Linked DNA regions of Homo sapiens: all the other regions are linked to region 1. Evidence: fine-mapped expression QTL. A gene starts in region 1. Each other region holds a variant in brackets. All regions are shown on one strand. Distances are between the middles of the regions.

What was found. PIP is the estimated chance that this variant, and not a neighbour inherited with it, causes the effect.
Region 2: its variant is fine-mapped to the expression of TTC7B in lung (TOPMed, PIP above 0.99). The same link has a PIP of 0.9 or more in monocytes.
Region 3: its variant is fine-mapped to the expression of TTC7B in testis (GTEx, PIP above 0.99).
Region 4: its variant is fine-mapped to the expression of TTC7B in monocytes after R848 (Quach 2016, PIP 0.95).

The regions. Positions count from the first base shown.
Region 1 is chr14:90,813,346-90,819,629 of GRCh38, forward strand. TTC7B (tetratricopeptide repeat domain 7B) reads right to left here and starts at 3,085. Exons shown (of 20, transcript NM_001010854.2): 1 at 2,830-3,085. The coding sequence starts at 2,950. RefSeq lists a silencer at 3,079-3,258.
Region 2 is chr14:90,781,324-90,786,323 of GRCh38, forward strand. TTC7B (tetratricopeptide repeat domain 7B) reads right to left here. Exons shown (of 20, transcript NM_001010854.2): 2 at 4,851-5,000. Among named protein-coding and RNA genes, the nearest start is that of TTC7B, 33 kb to the right of the region's middle. The variant G/A (reference allele first, on the strand shown) is at 2,963.
Region 3 is chr14:90,532,295-90,538,578 of GRCh38, forward strand. TTC7B (tetratricopeptide repeat domain 7B) reads right to left here. Exons shown (of 20, transcript NM_001010854.2): 20 at 1-6,284. Among named protein-coding and RNA genes, the nearest start is that of LINC00642, 80 kb to the left of the region's middle. RefSeq lists enhancers at 877-1,377, 1,412-2,242. The variant A/G (reference allele first, on the strand shown) is at 1,965.
Region 4 is chr14:90,628,285-90,633,284 of GRCh38, forward strand. The region is part of intron 15 of TTC7B (tetratricopeptide repeat domain 7B); the gene reads right to left. Among named protein-coding and RNA genes, the nearest start is that of TTC7B-AS1, 12 kb to the right of the region's middle. The variant C/G (reference allele first, on the strand shown) is at 2,426.

The sequences.
Region 1 (6,284 bases):
GATGTGAGTTTCATAAGGGCTGAGATTTTTGCCATTTTTGTCTGTTTTGTTTACCAGTGTATTTCCAGTGCCTAAAACAGTGGCTAGCACAGAGCAGGTACTCAATCTTTGTGGAAGGAAGGAAGGAATGAGTGGCTGGCCCTGAGAGACATTAGCTACTTTAACCCTCATAACAACCCCTGCAAGGTAAGTCATTTAAATCCCGTTCTAAAATGAGAAAACTGAGGCTCAGAGTGGTTAAGTGATTTGGCCAATGTCACAAAGTCAAGAAGTGGCCAAGGTCACAAGAATCAGTCCCCCATCTGGCTGGCTCCAAACACTGTATTCTTTTTTTTTTTTTTTCGCCTGTGGTTGTTTTCATGGTAACTGTCTTAGTGTGACAAACGTGACATTCACTTGCTTTCCTTATTCTAAGCAGAAGATGCTTTAACTTCAGGATTTTGCAAAATCTGCCCAGAACTTGTGCTCATGCACCCGAGAATCTATGGGGGAGCCGGTGCCCCCAAAAGCCAGGAAGAAGTCCCTCTACCAGCCCGAGAGTGGGAAGGCCTCACCAGTCAAACGGAGGGAAGGCCCCTCTTGCAAACACCAAAGGAGAGCCACAATCATTCTAGTTTAGTTTCATCTTTTTCTTGGCTTCATCGTTTTATTTTCCTGAGCACTCACTCTGTCTGATCTTTTCAAGTCCGGGTAACTTTTTGCCATCAATGGCTACCACTCACCATGTGAGTCTCTAGGACAAAAATCTATGTCCCATGAGTTTCCCCAAACTGAACTTGCACACAGACCCATGGACCACAGTGCCCCCGCAAACCCCGATCCCCAAGCCCCACTCATGACTGCATCTTAGGACATTGGGAGCAGCCCCTGGGAAGAGAGCTAAGCCTTTCGGGGGCCATGAAGGTGAATAGGAAGGGCCCAGGCCACCAAAAACCCATCTACCCTCTCATTCCAGGGACCATCATAGCTTGAGTCCCCCTTCATCTGCCTGTCATTCTCAATCACATTAACTCATCTGTTTTGTTTCAATCACTTCTCACTATCTGAAGCTGTGCTGTTTATTTATTTCCATATTTGCTTATCACCTGCCTCCTGAGAGCAGGGTGAGGGCATAAGGGCAGGGGCTTGGTCAGTGCTGTTCACCACTGTTCTGTGACTGGCACAGGTGGGCACGCAAATATTGGGTGAATGAATAAGCAAAGACAGCAGGAAACAAGTGGATTCAGAAGAAAAAAGACCAGGAGGCTCACAAATAAACCCATTTAATCCTAAAATCAACCTGCACAGAAGGTGTCATTATGCCTACACCGCTGGGAAGCCACAAAGTAGACCCAGGACTGTGCAACTCCGAGAGGAAAAGAGAAAATGCTGCAGGTAAGCGGAGAAGCAGGTGAGCCCGACACGGAGGGCAAAGGCAAGCTGCCTCTGGGGCCCAGGGCACTGAACACCATCTCCTCAAAGGCTGACATAACTGAGAAGGGTCCACATTTTCCACCAAGTGGAGCCCGTGTAGGGTCGGTGCTATCTCCATGCCCCTGACACACCATGGCACCTGCGTTCACCCAGAAGGTACCTGCCCACAGCATGCATCCATCATTGAGAGTGCGCAAAACCAAGTTCTAATTTCCAGGCACTAATACCATAGGACACAAACATAAACCACCCTCCAGGAGGACACCTGACATCCCTCTCCTTTCTGGGTAGTCTGAAGTGAGAAGGTTGAAAATAGTGCAGATGTCCTTTCTTAGAGCAGCCCCGCCATCCATTCATTCACTCTTTCATTCATTTGTTCAGCCAACATGTGCTCACTGGGCCTGGGGAAGCCCAGGATGAAATGAGACAAACCCTCTGCCCTCTGGCCACGGTGTGCTGGTGCCTGCGCTTTAGGCGGGTACTAAAAGACAAGCAAATATTAAAGATACTCGCTTCCAAAACAAATAAGGCCACGTGGAGCTGTGCACTGGAATGGGATTCTGGATGCAATTTTATTTGATTGGGTACAAGAACCAATCCAGTTAAAGGGGTCATGAACCAACTCCAGGCACCAGGCTCCTACTCAGAGGCTGCCTCAGACCCCCTTCTGGCCCAGGCACCAACCCCTCACCCACCCAACTCCATCTCCCGACATTCTTCAACCACATTCCCATCTCGCTCCACAATATTCTCCCTCCAGGTCCCCCTGACTCTATTTCTCCTCTATTCCCAACCCTGACCTCTCTAGGTCGGCAGCCTTGATGCTACTTCTCCGAACGCCAGGACGCACATCCCAGCCTGCTTTCTACCACCACCCCACACACCTCGAGTCTGCGCTTCCACCCAGAACCCCTTAAACACCATATGTTTACAAACCAGATTCCCCAGGGGTCTATGTACAACACCCCATTCTCAAGACCCCATAAACACATCCTGATTCCCTGAGCACACCATACACACACTGTGGACTTCACCCATGTCCTGAGGGACCCCCTCACCCCATCACCTCCAACTTCTTGGAAGCCCCAGGCCGGCCCCTGACCTCCTGTGGTCCCAGTGGAGCAGCGGACTCGCTGAGACCCCCGGACACCCCAGACTCCGCAGAAGCCCGCCCTGCACGCTTGAACCCCAGGCGCCGGGACAGCCCCTGGCGCCCCCCCGGGCCCCCACACCGCGTGACTCCGGGGCACCCGGGCTCCCCCAGGCCCCGGTCCCGCGCACATCCCCTGGGCCGCAGCTCCCTCGCGGCCCGGCCGCGCCCCTGCCCGCGCCCCGCGCCCGGCCGCGCCTCGGGGGCCCGTTCCCGCGGAGGCCGCGGCGCCCCCCGCAGCCCAGGCCGGCGCGCCCGGAGCGTACCGTTGGCGATGAGCTTGGCCGACAGCTGCTTGACGAGCTCAGGGATCCGCTCCCACTGGCACTCGGAGCGGCAGCGCTCGATCTCCGTCTCCAGCCGCGAGCCTGCCTTCTTGGTCGCCATCGCGGCCTGGCCGGGCCCGGCCGCCCGCCCCGCAGGCCCCACCGCCGCCGCCGCGGCGCCCCCTCGCCGCCTCCCGCCGCCGCCGCGGGCTCGGGCTCCGGCTCCCGGCTCCGCGGCGTAACGGGAGCGCCGGCTGGGGAAGGGGCGGGGAGGCGGGCGGCGGCGGCGGGCGCGGCGGGGCCCCGGGCGCCGCGAGGAGCGGCCCCTGCCGGCCAGGGCCGGAGCCGCAGCACTGACCGGGGCCGGAGCCAGGGCTGGGGCAGGGGCGGGGGCTAGGGCGGGAGACAGGGGCCCGAGGGAGGAAAGGCGGGGTGGGCATGGAGGACAGGGAGAGGGACTGGGGGTGTCTGGGGCGGGGTGAAGACCGAGGGGAAGTGGGGATGGGGGTGGGGGAGCGGGGTAGGAGAGAGATCTGACCAAGGGCGGGTGAGGGGTCTGGTGGGGTAGGGGTCTGGGCAGGATGAAGGGGAGGGAGAGGATCGGGAGGGAGCTAGCGACAGCCTGGGAGCGGGTTGGATCCCCAGGAGTAGGGCCAAGAAAGGGCAGTGACCCTGGGGAAGGTCACCGCCCGGTGGGACCAGTGAGCCAGGTGTGAGGGGTGGGGGGAGGCCTGCCCGAGTTTGTCCTGCCATCTCAGGTGGCCAGCGGTTCCCTGGGGCCCGGTTGGCCTGTGCCCCTTAGCAGATGCCCCTCTGCCCCGCAGCCTTAGCCCCTACCCAGCCAGAGGTGGACGGAGACTCCTCCATCCCAGGCAAGGCACAGCACCTGCCAGGGGTGCCCTAGATGGCTGAGCGGAGCCAGGCAGGGGCTGCCACTCTCACACGCCAGCTCTCGGACCCCCTGAGGGGAAGGCACAGTCACTGGTGGGGCCTCCTGTCTTGGCCACCTAGACTGAGACCTAGGGAGGTGTCCCTCTGTGTTCTCTCAGTGAATCAACTGTCTAGTGATCACCTACTATGTGCTGGGCGCTGCTTTAGGTGCCAGAGATAGAATTGTGAGCTAAAAAAACAAAATTCCTGGCTTGAGAGAGCTTACATTCCAGTTTGGGGGAAAAATAAGCAAAATAAAATAGTAAACTAGACTGTAAAAATGGCTATTTGAAGAAACAGGGAAGGGTTCAGTGAGGAACATAAAGAGTTGGGACAGGCGGGTGGCTCATGCCTGTAATCCCAGCTACTCAGGAGGCTGAGGCAGGATGATTGCTTGAGCCCAGAAGGTGGAGGCTGCAGTGAGCAGTGAACGCACTTCAGCCTGAGCAAGTGTTGCCATTTAAAATGGAGCAGTCAGGGATGGCCTCACGGAGGTGGCATTAGACTTGAAGAAACTAAGGGGGAGCCATGAGGATATCTCTGGGGGAGGAGTATCCCAGGCAGAGAACACCACAAGTGCGAAGGCTCTGGGGTTAGAGCACACTGGGTGGGATGGAGAAATGGCAGAGGCCAGAGGGGCTGGGTGGAGCGAAGGAGAGGGGCCGAGGCAGGAGATGAACTCTGAGAGGTTGGGGGGAGTTCTGTGTAGTGCCTGGTGGGCCATTATAAGACCTTGGCTTTTGGCTGGGCACGGTGGCTCACGCCTGTAATCCCAGCACTTTGGGAGGCCGAGGTGGGCGGATCACGAGGTCAGAAGATCGAGACCGTCCTAGCTAACATGGTGAAACCCGTCTCTACTAAAAATATTTTTAAAAATTAGCCGGGCGTGGTGGCAGGCGCCTGTAGTCCCAGCTGCTGGGGAGGCTGAGGCAGGAGAATGGTGTGAACCCGGGAGGCGGAGTTTGCAGTGAGCTGAGATGGCAGCACTGCACTCCAGCCTGGGCAACAGAGAGAGACTCCGTCTCAAAAAAAAAAAAAAAAACTTTGACTTTTACTCTGGTGACATGGAGCAGCCCTGCAGGGCTTTTCACGGAAGAGTGGCATGATCAGACCTACACTTTGGACTATCACTGTGACTGCAGTGTTGAGAATACTGCCAGGGAAATAGCTGTGGTGGTGGCAGTGTTGGATTCTGGGTCCTGCATTTGAGAGTGAAGCGGTCAGTCTGGAAGGTTCCGTAGCCCGCCCGCAGTCACAAGGAGGCACTGAGGGGTCGTCGTCATTCCTTCTGGGTGCCCTTACTCCAACTTTCCAAGAGCAGTCACACGCAGGTTCTTATCCCCACCACAACTCCCCCACCACCGGAGTTGATGAAGAACACACACTGTGGACCTCAGTTTACCAATGAGGAGGCTGAATCACAGACATTTAAGAGAGGTGAGGAGGAAAGATAAGGAGATGTGTTCTGATGTGACCAGTATCACTTTCAGGTGCCTCAGGGACTGCCAAGGTGATGGAAGTTGAGCTGACAGGCCCTGGACACTGTGAACAGCCCAGGGAAAGGGGAACTAGAACGTTAGAGTTTCAACAGGGGACCCTTTAGTGCCCTGGCCCTTAGCTCCCACCAAGAGGGAGCAGGAAGGGAAGGAGAAGAAATCTCCACAGGAGATGTTTCCTCTCTCCTGACACCCTCCTGTTCTCCCAACTCCAGTCTGCCTCTCCAGATTTGCTGGGAATGTTCTCCATCTGGACCAGGAGACAGATTCCTGTGCCTTCTTTCAGACACGGGCCAAAGGTTACTGGGCAGCCTTGCTCAACATCTGACAGACCTTGTGTGACAGCACTTGCCATCTCCCTCTGGGAAGGGGCAGGGTCTTAATCATGACTAACGCATACACTGCCTCAGTTGCCACACTGGAAGGTAAATGATGAGGGCCACCTGTCTGCCTCCCTACCTGATAAGGTGGCTTCATGAGGACGGATGCTGCCTGGGCCATGGCATTTAACATCCCCAGGCCTCCATTTCTTGGCTGTGATACCTCCCCCTGGAGCTCGTTGAGGAGGAAATGAGGAAATACAGGTAGGGCACAGAGAACAGTGCCAGCATGCCAGGCTCTGTGGCTCACGCCTGTAATCCCAGCAGTTTGGGTGGATCACGAGGTCAGAAGATCGAGACCTTTCTGGCTAACATGGTGAAACCCTGTCTCTACTAAAAATACAAAAAAATTAGCCGGGCATGGTGGTGGGCACCTGTAGTCCCAGCTACTCGGGAGGCTGAGGCAGGAGAATCGCTTGAACCCATGAGGTAGAGGTTGCATCTCCATCATGCCACTGCACTCCAGCCTGGGTGACAGAGCAAGACTCCATCTCAAAAAAAAAAACAGTGCCAGTGCACCAATAGAGTGCCATGTCGGCTGTCATTCTGTGTCTCTCTGCCCCTTGCAAGCCGCATAGGGCCTGGAACATTGTGGGAGCTTAAATGAACGAGGCTGGAGTCCCCAAGGTCTACAGCCACCTGCGAGTGC
Region 2 (5,000 bases), 33 kb before region 1:
TTTCTTTGGGAGGTGATGAAAATGTTCTAGAATTCATTGTGGTGATGGTTGCACAACTTCATGAATATACTAAAAATCACTGAAGTGGACACTCTGAATGGGTGAGTTGTATGGTATGTGAATCACACTTCAATAAAGCTGTTGCAAAAACCAAACCAAAACAAAACCCTGCGGCTCCCTTCATCAGGCCTGTGGCTGGGCTGGGCCGGCTGGGAAGGAAGGAATGCTTCATAAGTTAAACATACAAGCACCTGTCTCAGAAAAGGAAGCGGCCAGACATCCTGGTGGGTCTGGCCATGGCACTGGAGATGCACCACAACCCTGTAACCCAAATAACCAAGGAGAGCCTTCCCAAATGGATGTGAAGATCAGGACTTGCTTGCTTTCCAGGGCGAAGTTTCTCACTGAGCCATTGAAGTTTCTAAACTGAGGTGACCTGGTACCCTCCCTAGAGGCTAAGGGCTGGAAGTTCTCTGTGGGCCCCCCTTCCTCCCAGTCAGCAAGGCTGGCCTGGCCAGTCCCCCTCTCCCCAAAGCCTCATCATTGCCTTCCTCCCTGACCCGTCCTCCGGCACCTAGGGAAAGAACAGGCCACCCTGCCACCTATATAAGGAAACAGATTTATCTTCTGTGGCCAGACCTTCTCCTCAGAGCCCAAGCGGTTCAAAGCTGAGGTTTTTGCTTACAGAAGCACACCATGAAACCGCACTATTTATACTGTAACCTAGAGCTTTGATGAGTGGACAACACGGCCAGGTAGCCAGGTACAGCGTGTTACAGCAGCTATCTCAGCCAGCGTGGTCGGCTTCCAGGCATTTCTTGGAAGAGGGAGGGACATCAGGCAGCATTGGAAAGGATGGTGCAGTGGACAAGCAGGACTGATGGGAGCAAAAGTGTTTATGGGTGGCCCAAGGGAGAGGCACCAGAGGAATTAGAATTACATCTGGAGACAGAGAAATCAAAGCAGACTCAGAAAAGAGAAAAAAAGCATCCAGGCCGAGTGCGGTGGCTCACACCTATAATCCCAGCACTTTGGGAGGCCGAGGCAGGCAGATCACTTGACGCCAGAAGTTCGTGACCAGCCTGGCCAACATGGTGAAACCCCATCTCTACTAAAAATACAAAAATTAGTGGGGCATGGTGGTGCACACCTGTAATCCCAGCTACTCAGGAGGCTAAGGCACAAGAATCACTTGAACCCAGGAGGCGGAGGTTGCAGTGAGCCAAGATCACGCCATTGCACTCCAGCCTGGATGACAGAGCGAGACTCTGTCTCAAAAAAAAGCATCCACCACAGGGGTTCTCCACCCAGGTAGGGGACAGGCCAGGCTTGGGTATTTTGAAAACATTTCCTAGGACATTCTGGGAAGTCTACCCTCCTTCCCCAAGCTTCTAGCCTCTAAGAACCGTTGGATTAAAGGCGAATTGAAAGAGGAGGGGGAATGAGGAGTTAGCATTAATGGACACATCACAAGAGGTTCGCTCTGGGAAGATGCAAAGAGTCCTGGAGATGGAGGGTGGTGACGGCTGAGTGACAATGGTAATATACTTAACGCCACTACACTGTACACTTACAAAGAGCTATAATGTTAGGTTGTAAGTTATGTATATTTTACCAAAAGGGAAAAAAAAAAAGGTTAACAAAAGCAAACTGGAGAGCCAGGTGGAGAAAACGCTTGAAGAAAATTGCAAGCCTAGAGGCACAGCTTGGACACACTGGGAGAGCCTCCCTGGGCGAGTCCAGTCTCCACCCAAGTACAGGAAACAGCTTGGCCAGGGCGCCTCGGCTGCCTGGGCAGTGGGAGAACAGCCCCAACACAGTGTCAGGGGCCACCTTGCTCACAATAAGGACCATTTTCTTGCCTTGAATCACAAGCCAGATGTCCTGACTCCTAGTCCAGGACTCTTTCCATCCCACTACATGCCTGGCTGGCTCTGGTCTTCCCAGCCTCAATTCACTTAAGACAAGCTGGACTTAAGCTCAAGGAAAGAGAAAGTTTCACATTAGTTGGTGTGAGTAGGACAGCACACCCATGCAAAAGATGTACGGCTTTGGAACATTCTTTATAAGATGGAGGAAGGTGAAAAAGAGCAATGGGAGAAAAAAATTCTCTAGGTAGAACTAATAACATAGCAAGAAATGATGTGTATCTAGTGCTATACAGCTTTGAAAGAATTTCTCCATTTGAGCCTCAAAACAATCCTGGGTTAAGTAGGCCTGCAGCTGAGAAACATGAAGCTCAGAGAGGTTAAGTAACGTCCCAAGATCACACAGCTTATAAATCCAGAACTGGACTCAGACTCAAGCATTTTAACTTGAATTAAATTCAACAGCTGGGTGCAGTGGCTCAGGCCTGTAATCCCAGCACTTTCGGAGGCCGACGCAGGCAGATCACCTGAGGTCAGCAGTTCGAGACCAGCCTGGCCAACATGGTAAAACCACGTCTCTATTAAAAATACAAAAATTAGCCAGGTGTGGTGGCATGCGGCTGTAGTCACAGCTACTCAGGAGGCTGAGGCATAAGAATTGCTTGAACCTGGGAGGTGGAGGTTGCAGTGAGCCAAGATGGTGTCTGGATGACAGAACAACACTCTGTCTCAAAATAAATAAATAAATAAAAAATAAAATAAATTCAATGGGCTTACTACCACACTGCATTGTAGAGGATGGAAAGCAAAACCTATCAGCACCTGGTGAAATGAAAAGTGAATTTTTCAAGATGAAGTTGGGGGGCGGGTAGACGGGGGAAAGAAACAAGCCAGATCTCTCCCCTCACACCTCCCAGCAGGACACTTGAGTCTGGCTGGCCATCACTGTGAGCTGTGGCCCATGTGCCTGCTGTCCCTTCACTCTCTCCTGCTGATCAAGACCTACCACCTGTGTCCCCAGATCAAGACCTACCCCTGTGTCCACCTGTGTCATCATGTCATCGGTTAAGAACATATGAGATGAGGCCGGGAGC[G/A]GTGGCTCACGCCTGTAATCCCAGCACTTTGGGAGGCTGAGGTGGGCGGATCACGAGGTGAGGAGATTGAGACCATCCTGGCTAACACGGTGAAACCCTGTCTCTACTAAAAATACAAAAAATTAGCCGGGCGTGGTGGCGGGTGCCTGTAGTCCCAGCTAGTCAGGAGGCTGAGGCAGGAGAATGGCATGAGCGCGGGAGGCAGAGCTTGCAGTGAGCGAAGATCACGCCACTGCACTCTAGCCTGGGTGACAGAGCCAGACTCCATCTCGAAAAAAAAAAAACATATGAGATGGATGAGATGGAGATGGGGTTTCGCCATGTTGGCCAGGCTGGTATTGAACTCCTGGCCTCAAGTGATCTGCCACACACCAAAGTGTGGCATGGCCCTTACAGAGAAACTGAATGGGGAAAGAGAAGACCTGGTTTTTGAAGCCCAAATGCAGCAGGGAGTCTTTAAGTACCTGGGATCCCTATGCTGAGCTGACCTCTCCAGCCACCCCCTAGGGGCCTGGGGCAAGATCCCTGTGTTGAGATGACGCTCTCCAGCCACCTCCTAGCGGCCTGGAGCTGTGTCCCGTGCATACAACATACACAGAGACAATTTTGAAAGCAGCTCTCTATCAGGGTTTCCAGAAGCCTGTTGCTGCACAACTGACCAACACCAATACTAACTTACTCAAAGGTTGCCCAGGCCCTCCATTGCAGCAGGGCCAAGGAGGTGGCCAGATGACCAAGAGGAGGAACAGCTCAAATTGAAAGCTCACAGGCTTAGAACATGCAGGAGCCGGGAAGGTCCAAGCTCACCCCTTTAAGAGCCCACCCCATTCAAACCTAAAGAAACTGAGCTGCAGAGAGGCGAGTAACCTCCCCGGGGTCACACAGCAAGTCGGGAGCAGGCTGGAGTTTGCAGTACAGATATGAAATGTAAAGCCAAAGAAAGCATGGCTTCCCGGGGGGAAGCGTGCACACACAAACAAGAATAAAGACCAAAAATGGAGTCTCAGAGGATTCCGAGACAGGAAGAGAAGAAAAATGAGAAAGAAGTCATCAAAGTTAAAAGGAAACGGAAGTCAGAGCTCCAGAAGTTCACCAAAGACTGTCCTCAGTGGGAAATACATCCTGGGGAAGACAGGCAGCATGGAGCGGGCCACAGACAGCCATCTGAACTAGGGGAAGCATCTAGAGCCAGGGGAGTGTGAGCCACCTGGGAGGCAGAAGGGCAGGGCGGGAAGAGGAGATGACCCCCATGAAAAGCAAAAGGAACTGATGAGGAGTCCAAGAAGAAAGGAAGGAAAGCCACGTGAGAGGGAATGGAAACCTGGGTGTAATGAGACCGGAAAACAGAATGGACAGATAGGGGGCAGCACCTAAGATTCCTTGTGCCTGAGGGTGAGGGTTCTTGCTGAGACGTGGGGAAGTTCCTGGCCCCCTCCCAACTGTGACGCCAGGCCTGCTGGCACCAGTATGGAACCTCCCACAGCTCTGGGCCACAGTGGCTTCTTACATTGATGAGCAGGAAGCTGTGCGCTGAGCATCCTTCTGATTAACTTCTCTCTTTTCTAGAACTGCGTAACATGTCAGGTTAAGCTCTGGGTTATATCGGATAGCTTTAGTTCAAGCGTCTGAGAGATAAGTGGCATTGTGCAGATGACGTGTCATTGAAGACTCTCATCAGAGAGACCCTATTGGCCCAGAAGCCCCCACAGTGGTCAGCCAGCCTAGAGATTGGCACATCCACCCAACTGGGAGCTGGCCCGCTTCTAAGAAGACAAGCCCTGGCAGTGTGCAGGTGAGCTCCAAACGTCACCCGGCTCAACCCTGGGCACCCTTCTCAACCCCACACTGTCCAAAGGAAGTGTCGCCTCAGCCCAGAGGCCCATGGTACCTTAAGGTTCCCTCGGTCCAGGGCGGCGGTCAGATGCTTGCGGACCTCAGTCAGCTGGGGCTTGGGGCCTCGGGGACTGGCCCCCTGCCTCAGGGGGTGTTCCTTCAGGTACTGCTCCAGCTTCGACTCCCCGAGGAGAAGCTCTGCCAT
Region 3 (6,284 bases), 280 kb before region 1:
ACTCTGGAGATAATTTAAAGTTGATCCCCTATTTGTACATTACAGGATGCTCTTCCCTCTTCACATGGTCTGGTCCTTGCTGGCAATGTGAGGATGGGCCAATGTGAGGATGGGCCAGCCCTTTTGCAAACTGGCTGGGCCTAGTCATCTGGTACAAAGTGGCAGAACCTGACGCTTTTGGGCTTCTGCTCACCATCCCTCTTAAAGGTGAAGAAGCCCAGTGTCCTCCAGGGTGGGCACCTTCTTGTCACTCAATGTCACTGTCTTACAGAGGTGTCCCCGACCAGCCAATCTAAAGTAACCCTCCCCCTGTCACTTCAAATTTGCTCTAATCATCTGCCAAGCTGGTAATTATCTTATTTGTTTACCCCTCTGTTTGGGGTCTGTCTTCCCAGTCCCCAATAAGACCACCAGCTCCCCAGCCCAGGTACCTGTGTCTGGCCAGGGGTCCTTGATACACCGTGGCTGAACACAGGCAGGAAGGCCTCACTGCCACCTGGGTGGGTGGAGGTTCAGGCTGGGCTGGGTGCTCAGGAAGCCTCCATGGGCTTGGGGAGGTCATTTTCCTGGTAGCTGTGCCTTCCTGGGTACTGCTGAATGGCAGGCTAAGCTCAGGCTGGAAACCCTGACCTCCTGCCATGCCCGGGGGAGGAGCCATGCAGGGGTAGGGCTGGGCTGTGCTCGGCCATGTGCTTGTGTTTTACACACCCTCTGAATCTTTACAACCACCTTGTTCTCCCCATTTCACAGATGAGGAAACCGAGGCTCAGAGAGGACTAGTGACTCACCTAAGGCTCCTAGGAGAGTAGGTGGCCAGGTCCCGATGCAGGCTCCAGCCCAGCAGGCCCACAACCCGAGCCCTTGGGCCACAGGCACCGCCTCAGGCAGTGGCGGATGGGAGCCTCCTGTGCTGTGACCAAGTGGGACAGGGATGCATGACCCTCCTCAGGCCTTGGCTGGACCCAGGGCCCGAGGATGACCCTGTGGGGTCAAGGAGGCAAAGACAAGAGTGGTGGCGGTCACAGAGGCCCCCAGCCATGCCCATGCTGACCAGGCCCCTCACCTCCTCCTCCATGCAGAGCGGGACTCGGACTCTGCCTCAGCTGCAGCTAGCTCTGCCCTTCCTGCCCTGCTTCAGGGACCCCTCAGCACGTCCCAGCAGCCACTCACCCCTCGCCTGAGGATAGAAGAAAGAAGGAAAGACTTTATGGTGCACCCCGGGGGCCCCATGCCCTGTCCAGGTTGACCTCTGTTAATATCCCCAAAAGCCCGTAAGGGAAGTTACTCCCCGACCATAGAGATGAGGAGACAGAGTGCTTCCCCATCAGAGGTGACACGGCCAGGCAGAACTGGGATTCCAGCCAGATCTGTGTGACCCACAGCCCAGTGGTCACCAGGAAACCCTATTGTCCTCAGGGGGTCAAGGGCCAAACAGCAGAAGATGAGGGAGACGAGGAGGGTGGTGGGGGCTGTGGGTGGCCCGGATGGTCAGCGGGAGCTGCTGGCTCCAGGCAGACCTGCAGAAGATCCCCCACCACCTTCCTGCCACCTCTCCATAGTCAGCCCCACTCAGGGCTTGAGTGTCCAGGAGGAGTCCTGCCTGCTGGCCTGGCCCTGAGGCCCTGTGTGGTGGTCCTGAGGGGCGGTAGCCCTCGTGTCCCCTACCTGGCACACACCACCTCTGACAGCTGCCTGCAGACTCACATCTCAGCCCAGAAGGCAGGCTGGGCAGAGGTGACTGTCCTCATCTGATTCTGAGTCCAGGGAGGGACAGTGGCACAGTGAGGATCACCCCCAGCAGGTGCAGAGCTGGAGTGGGTCCCCCACGGTGTGACCTTGAGGGGGGGCCTCAGCCTGGCCCCCAAAAGACCTTCAGGAGGAGCACATTCCTGTCTGAAATGGTGCAGGATGTCCTTTTTCTGTTCCTATCTGGCTGCAGCGTGGGCAGGGGCAGCAGGAAATGC[A/G]TGACCACAAGTGTGGGAGGAATGTTAGTGGCGGGAACGGCCGCAGCCCTAAGGCTCAGCCCTGGGGCTCGGCCCATTTTCCTGTGTGGGGTCCTCAGGCCCAGTGCGGCTGCTACTGCCCGCCTCCCCCGGAGGACTCCGGCCAGGCCTCAAAGGCTTATGGTCAAGTGTGTGGCTGCTTCTGGAGTAGGCAGGATGGACAGGGCAAGCAGACGCTAGGGGAGGGATGGGAGCAGCCACCTGGTACAGTGCCCAAGACACAGTTTACAGAACTTCAATATGAGTGGTGTCCCCTCACTGGGCAATGCCCACCCTGTCGGCCTTGAGAGGTGGTGGGGGAGGAGCAGGAATGAGAAGGTGGCGATATGGAGAGAGGGGGCCGAGTGGCAGGGGCCGAGCGCTGGGAGGGTATGGGGGCATTGGAGGGAGACAGTGGCCAGAGTGGCTGACCCTGCCCTGAAATTCCTTCAGTAGGGCCGGGTCACCCATTCCAGCCTGGAGCCGGCTGTGCTGCAGGGACCTGGGCTGGGGCTGGGGCAGCAGGTGACAGGCTGGTGACAGGCCCAGCACGGACAGGGCAGACGTGGAGAACTCCAAGGATGATGGGGAGGGTGCCTGCAAAGGGGGGACTTCCTGCAGGCAGAGAGTCTGGGCCCGCAATGATGACTGTGTGGCCGCCGGGGAGATGCGTGGGGCCATCTGGAGGAGTCTGGGTTGCTCCATGTGATCACAGACACGCCCACCTGTGCACGAGCATGCACCTCCCCCAGGCCATGACCACAGGTAGGGGGCATGGAGGATAACGGGAGGCCTTGGTTCCCTCCTTTCCCCACCGAGGGAGGTCCCCACGCAGCCCTGAGGGTGAGCAGAGCCCTGGCCACAGCCCAGGGCCCAGGACCTGGAAGGAGGCAGAGAGACAGACAGACGAGCCCATGGATCCCAAATGGGGCTGGGGATGGGAAGTGGCCTGCCCCGGCCACACCTGCCCAGGCCCCCAGCCTGGCTCTGTCCTGAGATCCTCTTGGCTGAGTGGGGCGGCTCCTTCAAAGAAGGGCCTCCTCCCTCCTCTGCCTCCTCCTTCCCTTCCTGGTCCATTCGCCACCCCACCCTGCCCGAAGTTGGCTCCCTGCTCACTGAGGAGTGGGTGCCCCGTCCCCAGGGCTCCCTGGCTTGGGGGTACCCAGGCCTCTGCCTCCCTGCTGCTGCTGCTCTGGGGAACCACCAGGCCCCCAGCCAAGGCAGCCCCCCTCAGCTTCCCTCTCTCCTTCCTCACGCCTGCCCTGCTGGAAACACAAGGTGCTCAGCGAGGCCGCCTTCAACACTCAACACGGCCCCTTCCCCACCGGACTCCTAACCTGTGTTCTCAGCTCCCCTCTGCAGCTACGCTCTTGAAAGAGACTTCACCTTTTCCTCCCCCTTGAGCCCACTCCAACCTGGCTTGACCCCACCTTAGTCAGCTTGGGCTGCCGTAAGAAAACCGCCACAGACAGGTGGCTTCAACAATGAACTTAATTTCTCACAGTCCTGGAGGTTCAAAGAACAAAGCAAAGGTTCCAGCCCATCTGGGTTCCTGTGAGGCTCCCTCCTGGCTTGCGGGTGGCCGCCTTCTCCGTGTGTCCTGGCGTGGCTGAGCGTGAGCTCACTTGCACTTTAGAGTTTCTTCTGGTGAGGACGCCAATCCTACTGGGCCAGGGCCCCTCCTGATGACCTCACTTCACCTGAATTACTTCCTTAAGGGGCCTATCTCCAAATATAGTCACACAGGGGCGGGGGCTCCACCCTATGAATCTGGGGGAGCAAAACTGCATCCCCAGCATGGCTCTGGTCAAGGTCACTGCCAACCTGCACACCACCAGGCCCACGGTCAGCTCTCAGGCCACCCTGACGGGGTCTCCAGGCATTGAGAGAGCCCACCCACCTCCTCCAGGAAGCTCACCCTGCCTGCTCTCCGCCTCCCTTGCAGCTGCTCCTGCGCCTTCTTTCCTGATCTCTTCATTTCCCAGCCTGTAAACCCCGCCAGCCCCGGAGCTCAGCCCTGACCTCTTCCTCTTTGTCTATGCTTGTCCCGAAGTGGCCCCGTCAGGCCCATGGCTCCCAGCCCCGCATCCCTGACACCTCCCACACTCTCGCCTCATCTTGGGCTCTCGCCTGGGCTCCTGCCCAGCCAGCTGCCTCCCCCTCAGAGGCTCCACAGGCATTTTGTATTCAACCTGCCTGAAAGCAGACTCCTGCCTTCTCCTCTCCTCCCCAACCTATTCTTCCTGTTTCCTGGCCATCATCGCCATCCTTCCAGTAGCTCAGGACAAGACCCTCACCCTCATCCCTGGCGTCTCCCCTCCCTCACACCCAGCTCCATGTGTGAGCAACCCTCTTGGCTCTGTCTTCAGAATCTTCACAGTCCAGTGCCTCTCGCCACTTCCTCCACGCCCCTTGGTCTAAGCACCATGGTCGCTGTGTGACAGCAGGAGCCTGACAGCCTCCCAGCTCCCACGCTGCGGCCTGCAGAATAACGTGCTCCCCCTGCCCCTCAAAGACGTCCACATCCCGAGCCCTGGAACCTGTGACTATGTTGCCTTCCATGACAGATGGAGCGATGCAGATGTGATTGAACGAAGGCTCTCGAGGTGGGGCAATGGCCCTGGACTATCCAGGGGGCCCAGAGCAACCAGCAGAGTCCTTAGAGGGAGGCAGGAGGTCAAAGGCAGAAAGGTGACGCAGTGACGGAGCAGAGGAAGGAAAGGTGACGTGAGGTGGCCACGAGCCAAGGCCGCAGGAAGCCTCTAGCCGCTGGAGAAGACGGGGACACCCGTCCTCCTCCAGAGCCTGGGGAAGGAGCACAGCCCCACTGAAAGCTTGATTTGACTTCTGACCTCCAAAACAAAGAGAATAAATTTGTGTTAAGACGCTAAGTTTGCGGTCATTTAAAATTTTTAATTTATTTTATTTGTAGAGATAGGGTCTTGCTCTCTCATGCAGGCTGGACTGCGGTGGCGTGATCACTCACTGCAGCCTCAACCACCTGGGCTCAAGCAATCAGCCCATCTCAGCCTCCCAAGCAGCTGGGACTACAGGTGCACGCCACCAAACCTGGCTATTTTTTTTTTTTTGTAGAGATGGGGGGGGGGTCTCACCATGTTGCCCAGGCTGGTCTTGAACTCCTGGCCTCAGCTGATTCTCCTGCCTCAGCCTCCCTAAGTGCTGGGATTACAGGCAGGAGCCACCATGCCCAGCCAGTTTATGGTAATTTGCTGCAACCACAGGCAATTAATATACACTGTTAGCATGGTCCACGAGGCCGCACCTGTGTGGCCCCTGTTAAACTTCTGACCTCTTCTCATCCTTCACCACCTGACCATCCCCCTCCCCTCTGGGCCTTTGCACCTGCTGTTCCTGCTTCCTGAGATGTCCTCCTCCCAGGTTACCTGTCTTTCTTCAGCCAGATGTCACCTTCTTAGCGAGGCTTCCCTAGTCACCTTCTAAACAGCAGCCCTGCCACTCCCTACACCCCTTCCCTGGCTTCATCTTTCTCCATGCGTCACCCCACCTGCCATACTCCTCATCTGTCTGTTTCCTTCTACCAGAAGGTAGGTCCTAAGTGGATGCAGCATCTGTGTCACACATTGCTGTGCCCTCAGTGCCTGGAATAAGCATCTGGCATGTTGTGAGCATTCCATAGATATTTGTTGGATGAATGAATGAGTGAATGAATGAATGAAATTTCACAGATGGGGAGACTAAGACCAGGGAACAGGAACGCCTTGCCTAAGTTAGGGTCAGCACTAGTCCTGGAATCAAACGCGGCATCTCCTGCATCTCACTGTCCAAAAAATGCCTCCACTGGGCAGACCTGGGCACTTTTGAAATGTTTATCCCTCAGGCCTGTCTCAATCTTAGTTCTGCCAGGTAATTCCACAATGACCCCAGGCAGGTGTCCTGCCGTCTTAGTGTCTAGCGTCTGCGTCCTCATCTATTAATGGATGGACGGATGGATGGATGGATGGATGGATGGATGGATGGATGGATGGACGGACGGACGGACGGGTGGACGGATGAATGGATGGATGGATGGATGGACGGATGGATGAATGTCCTTAGTTGGGAAAGGCTCAGCAGGTCAGAAGACTAGGAAGAAGGCCAGAGCCATGAGAGGGCTTGGGGAAGGAGAGGCAGCCAGGCACACAGGGGGCTGGGACACAGAGTCTGGTTCCAGGCAAGGGCTTGAGAAGCCATCAGGGGTTTATAGAGAGAACCGACTCAATCCTCCCTTCTAAGAGGACTGTGCAGACATTGGACTGTGTGGGGCTGGGGCCAAGGTACTGG
Region 4 (5,000 bases), 190 kb before region 1:
CTTTTTGGTAATTTCTGACATTTGGGAAGCAAGTCCCGGGCCTCTTCTGTTCTGCCACCCTTCCTCTCCTAGAGGACCTTCTCTCTGGAGGATCTCTCGGTCTTTATTTCTGGCTGAGCCCCCAAGGCCCTGATTTCTCCACATGACCCAGTTTGAGGAGGGGAGCACAGTGAAGAAATGAGACATTGGGACCCAGTTCAGCAGACAACGGCAGATGCCAGAAGAATGGGAATCCCACCACCTAGACCTAGAAGGGGAAGGGCCTGGGCCACAGTGTGATATGGACTTGATCCATGAAGCTCTGTGATATAGAAATGGCGCCTTCTGCACAGTCAGGAGGGAACTAGGAAGGAAGGGGCCTGGCAGGGCACTGGGAAGCTCAAGCGGCTCTCCAGGACCAGAGGTGGATGATGTGTCTCTCTGGGCTCCAGGGCCACATGGGACCGCGCATCCTTGCATCAATCAGCTGCTCCTGTGAATCCTGGCCTGTTTTACATTTCCTGCCTTCTCTGCCTTCATTTCCTGTGTGTTTCCATGAGGGGCTGTTTGGTTTCGCATGGCTTGATTCCACTGTGCCAAGGGACACTGAAGGCAGCACTTTTGTCCATGCCTGGCCTAGAGCTCAGAAACAGACAGCCCTCCTCCCTGAAGGTGAGCGATTCTTCGGAGGCATAGCACGCTCCAGCGTGATTCTGCCTCCACATCTCACTGTGTGCTGCGTGAAGACTGGGATGGTGCCATCTCCGGCCTTGGCCCTCCTGAGCCTGGCACCATGCCTGGCTGAAAGCAGGCGCTCTCTACCCATGAACTGGGGGAGGTGTTCAAAGGACAGTGAATCTGATCATCTGAAGGTGGCTTATCAATTCTCCCCAGTTGTTTTCAGCTCAGGATCCCCACAAGAATACTTATAGGATAAATTTGGAGATTCTCTCATTTCTCTTCCCTGTTCTCAGGTTCCTTTTTTTTTCTTTTTTTTTAAATAGTAAACTTTCCTTACTTTAAAATGCAACCATTACAAATGAACTAGAATTCAATTGTGTTTGGAATATCTGATTTTTTTTCACAGCTGGCTGGGTAACCAGCAAGCACCTTATACCGCCCATTTGCAGAAAGTATGGCCATCATTTTATCAGACAGTGAAACTTGGCAGAGTAGAAATCAAAATGGATAACAGATGAAACACAGGCAGACACAAGCTTAGCTATGAACGAAGAGCTACCAGGCTACTCTGCACGGACAAAGTTTCAAGCATGCATTGCACAGACAGGTATTAATGTTTGTAGCAGGCAGCCCGGGGCCAGGTGCTGGGGAGCCAGAGGTTTCCAGGAAACACCTGCAAGAAGTCTCAAGAGGACACTCCCATACTCTGAATTGTTGAATGAGATATGGGGAGAACTTGGAGATCTTGGAAAGAAAAGCACAAAAATAAATAAACCTTCTGGATGCCATGACTCGCGGGGAGTGGCTTTGGTGTGGGCCTCACCATGGTGCCCCTCCTGGCCCAGCCTCGCCTCTCCCAGCTGCTCGGCTTTCTGAGCCCCCGGCGGTCAGCCAGTGCTCTCTCCTGTGGCTGACAGGGAGGCTGGGATGCCCTGAAGGCTGGTTCTCCAGCATCTTTGGAAAAAAAACTAGAAAAGGGAACTTCCCTGGAAAGGAAGCAGAATATCCCATGAGGATTTAAACTGGGGGACACCAGTCATATGCAAGCCTAGTACTGGTTGTGAAAATGGGGGGAGGGGTTTGGGCCAGCACCACTCCTAATCTCAGGACATGGCTGTCTCCAACCCCGGAGAAAGGAGGATCCTCTCATAAACAAACGTGGCTTCAAATACATTTTCCTGCCATTTCCCCTCTTCCAGTTCTTCTACTTTTGCCTCATAAACCAAATCTTCAGTTTCCAGACAATTTTTCATTGCATTTGGGGGATTTTGTCCCTCTTGACAAGCATCTATGTTTAGTGAAGGCAACAGCACAGAGCCAAAGCCTCACAGAAAGAGGACATCCATGCGCGTGGGGTGCTGGGAGGCTGCTTCCGTGGCTCAGCAAGTCCATCCCAGAAGAACATTGGCTCCGTGATGCAGAGCCGGAGAATCTCAAGAGCAGAAGGGTCCCTTGTCATCTACGAATGCTGGAAACCCTCCTGCAGCCACACATGTTAACAAAGGGAGCTCAGAAAGTTTCGTTTCTTTAAAATGTAGTAAAATATACGTAACATAAAATTTGCTAATGAGCTATTTTTAAGCGTACAGTTTAGTGGCATTGTGTACATTCACACTGTTGTGCAACCATCACCAGCCTCCATTTCCAGTACTCTATTCGTGTTGCAAAACTGAAACCGCACCCACTGAACAATAGCTTCCCATTCCCCCTCCCAGCCCTGGCAACCACCATTCTACTTTCTGTCTCTATGAGTTTGACTACTCCA[C/G]GTACCTCATATGAGTAGAGTCACACATTATTTGTCCTTTTGTGACTGGCTTATTGCACTTAGCATAATGTCCTCAATTTTCATCTATGTTGGTACATCCATCAGAATGTCCTTCTATCTTGTTTTTTGTTTTTTTTTTTTTTGAGATGGAGTCTCACTCTATTGCCCAGGCTGGAGTGCAGTGGCATGATCTCGGCTCACTGCAAGCTCTGCCTCCTGGCTTCACGCCATTCTCCTGCCTCAGCCTCCCGAGTAGCTGGGATTACAGGCGCCTGCCACCACGCCCAGCTAATTTTTTGTATTTTTAGTAGAGACGGGGTTTCACTGTGTTAGCTAGGATGGTCTCGATCTCCTGACCTTGTGATCTGCCTGCCTTGGCCTCCCAAAGTGTTGGGATTACAGGCGTGAGCCACTGCACCCAGCCATGTCCTTCCTTCTTAAGGCTGAATAAAATATTCCATTATATGTGTAAACCTCATTTTGTTTAACCATTCATTCATTGATAGGCACTTGGCTTGTTCCCACCTTTTGGCTATTGAGAATTATGCTGCTGTGAACACGGGTGTATAGATCTGTTCAAGTCCCTGTTTTCAATTCTTTTGGGCAGACACCCAGAAGTGGGACTGCTGGATCACATGATAATTCTATTTTTAATGTTTTGAGGAACCACCATACTGTTTTCCATAGCGTCTGCACCAATTTTTTTTTTTTTTTTTTGAGACAGATTCTCGCTCTGTCACCCAGGCTGGAGTACAGTGGCATGGTCTCAACTCACTGAAACCTCCGCCTCCCAGGTTCAAGCGATTCTTCTGCCTTAGCCACCCGAGAAGCTGAGACTACAGGCACATGTTACCACACCCGGCTAATTTTTTATTTTTAGTAGAGACGGGGTTTCACTTTGTTGGCCAAGCTGGTCTCGAACTCCTGACTTTGTGATCTGCCCATCTCAGCCTCCCAAAGTGCTGGGATTACAGGCATGAGCCACCCTGCCCAGCCTGAGTCTGCACCATTTTATATTCCCACTAGCAATGCACAAGGGTTCCTATTTCTCTACATCCTTGTCAACACTTGTGACTTTGTTTTTTTGATAAAATCCATCCTACTGGGTATGAAGTGGTATCTCATTGTGGTTTTGATTTGCATTTCCCTAATGGTTAGTGATGTAGAGACTCTTTTCATGTGCTTATTGGCTATTTGTATATCTTCTTTGGAGAAACATCTATGCAACTCCTTTCCTTTGCCCATTTCCTAAAGGGGATGGGGTTTTGTTTCGTTTTGTTAGGGTTGTGGAAAGTTGATTTTAAATAAGCTACTGCACCACTAAGTCCCACTCCATTGTGACCCCTGTTGTCTTCCAGGCTGCCACCAACTCGCCTGTGTCCAAAGGCCTCCCTCCCTACTGGTATCCCTGGGGTGGTTACTGTGTGCTCACTCCTTCCAGACATCCTTCAGGTATCAGTGGATCATTTCTCTAGTTTAATGAGATGAACAGCCTCTTTCCTTGTGGTCTAACTTCTTATCAAATGCTAATTTAGTGGGCATGTTCATTGCTTCATCACTCAGCTCAGGCAAAAAATTTGCCCACAACCCCTGGTCAATTTAAATCACCAAAATTGTTTTAATCACTAAATCAAAACATTATTCAATATGATGTTTCAACTTAAACTGAACTTCTCTGAGAGTATGTGTGTGTGTGCCCGAGTGAAAAAGAAACATTAGTCTCACTTGCCAAGTAATGATTTAAAAAAAAATTATATGTATACTCCACTCAAGTAAAGAATGATTATAACTATGTTTCCTAGTTTTTTGATTCCAGGTTAACAGGGGAGATAGCATAAAACTCCTGCTCATCTGGGTTATAAGCTCTAATGGAGCAGAAACTGACTTGTTCACAGCAGTAATCCCCAACATCTAGCATGGCCCCTGGCATGTGGTAGAAACTCAATGCTTCAAAGTCAGTTCGTGGTTACGAGCACAGATGGCGAGGCCAGATTGCCTGGGTTGAAATCATGGCTCTGCCTTTTTCCAGGTGTATAATCTTGGACAAATTACTTAAATTCTCTGTGCCTCAGTTTCCTTATCTACAAAATGAAAATAATAACAAAACTACCCACCATAGATAGTTCTTGCAAGGATTAGTTAAAAATGTGTAAAGTGTTATTAAGAGTGCCTGTCACAATGCGGGGTATAAACATTAGTGGTTACTAATGCTGAAAGAATGACTGATTAAATGAATGAATGTTATATATGTTCACTTCTTCCCATACAGTTAGTTTCCACTGATGTAAAAAGAAATGTGACTGTCTGATAAAATCTGTGTTGACATGTATAAGAGCTGAGGCCACGGACAGAAGTGTTCTAGAAGACCTCTGTGCCTCCAATCAGGTGACTGAGGGTGTGTCTCAATATCATCTGATGTCTTATAGTTATGGGTCAGAGAAAACACTTCAAACACTTGTGCATACAGCATCATGATCACATACTTATATTAGTAATCTTGAGAGGTTTGCTTTGTGGTGACATCTGATGTTTTCTTAAGTGTGCTATTGATTTGATAACCTCTCTGGGAGCACAT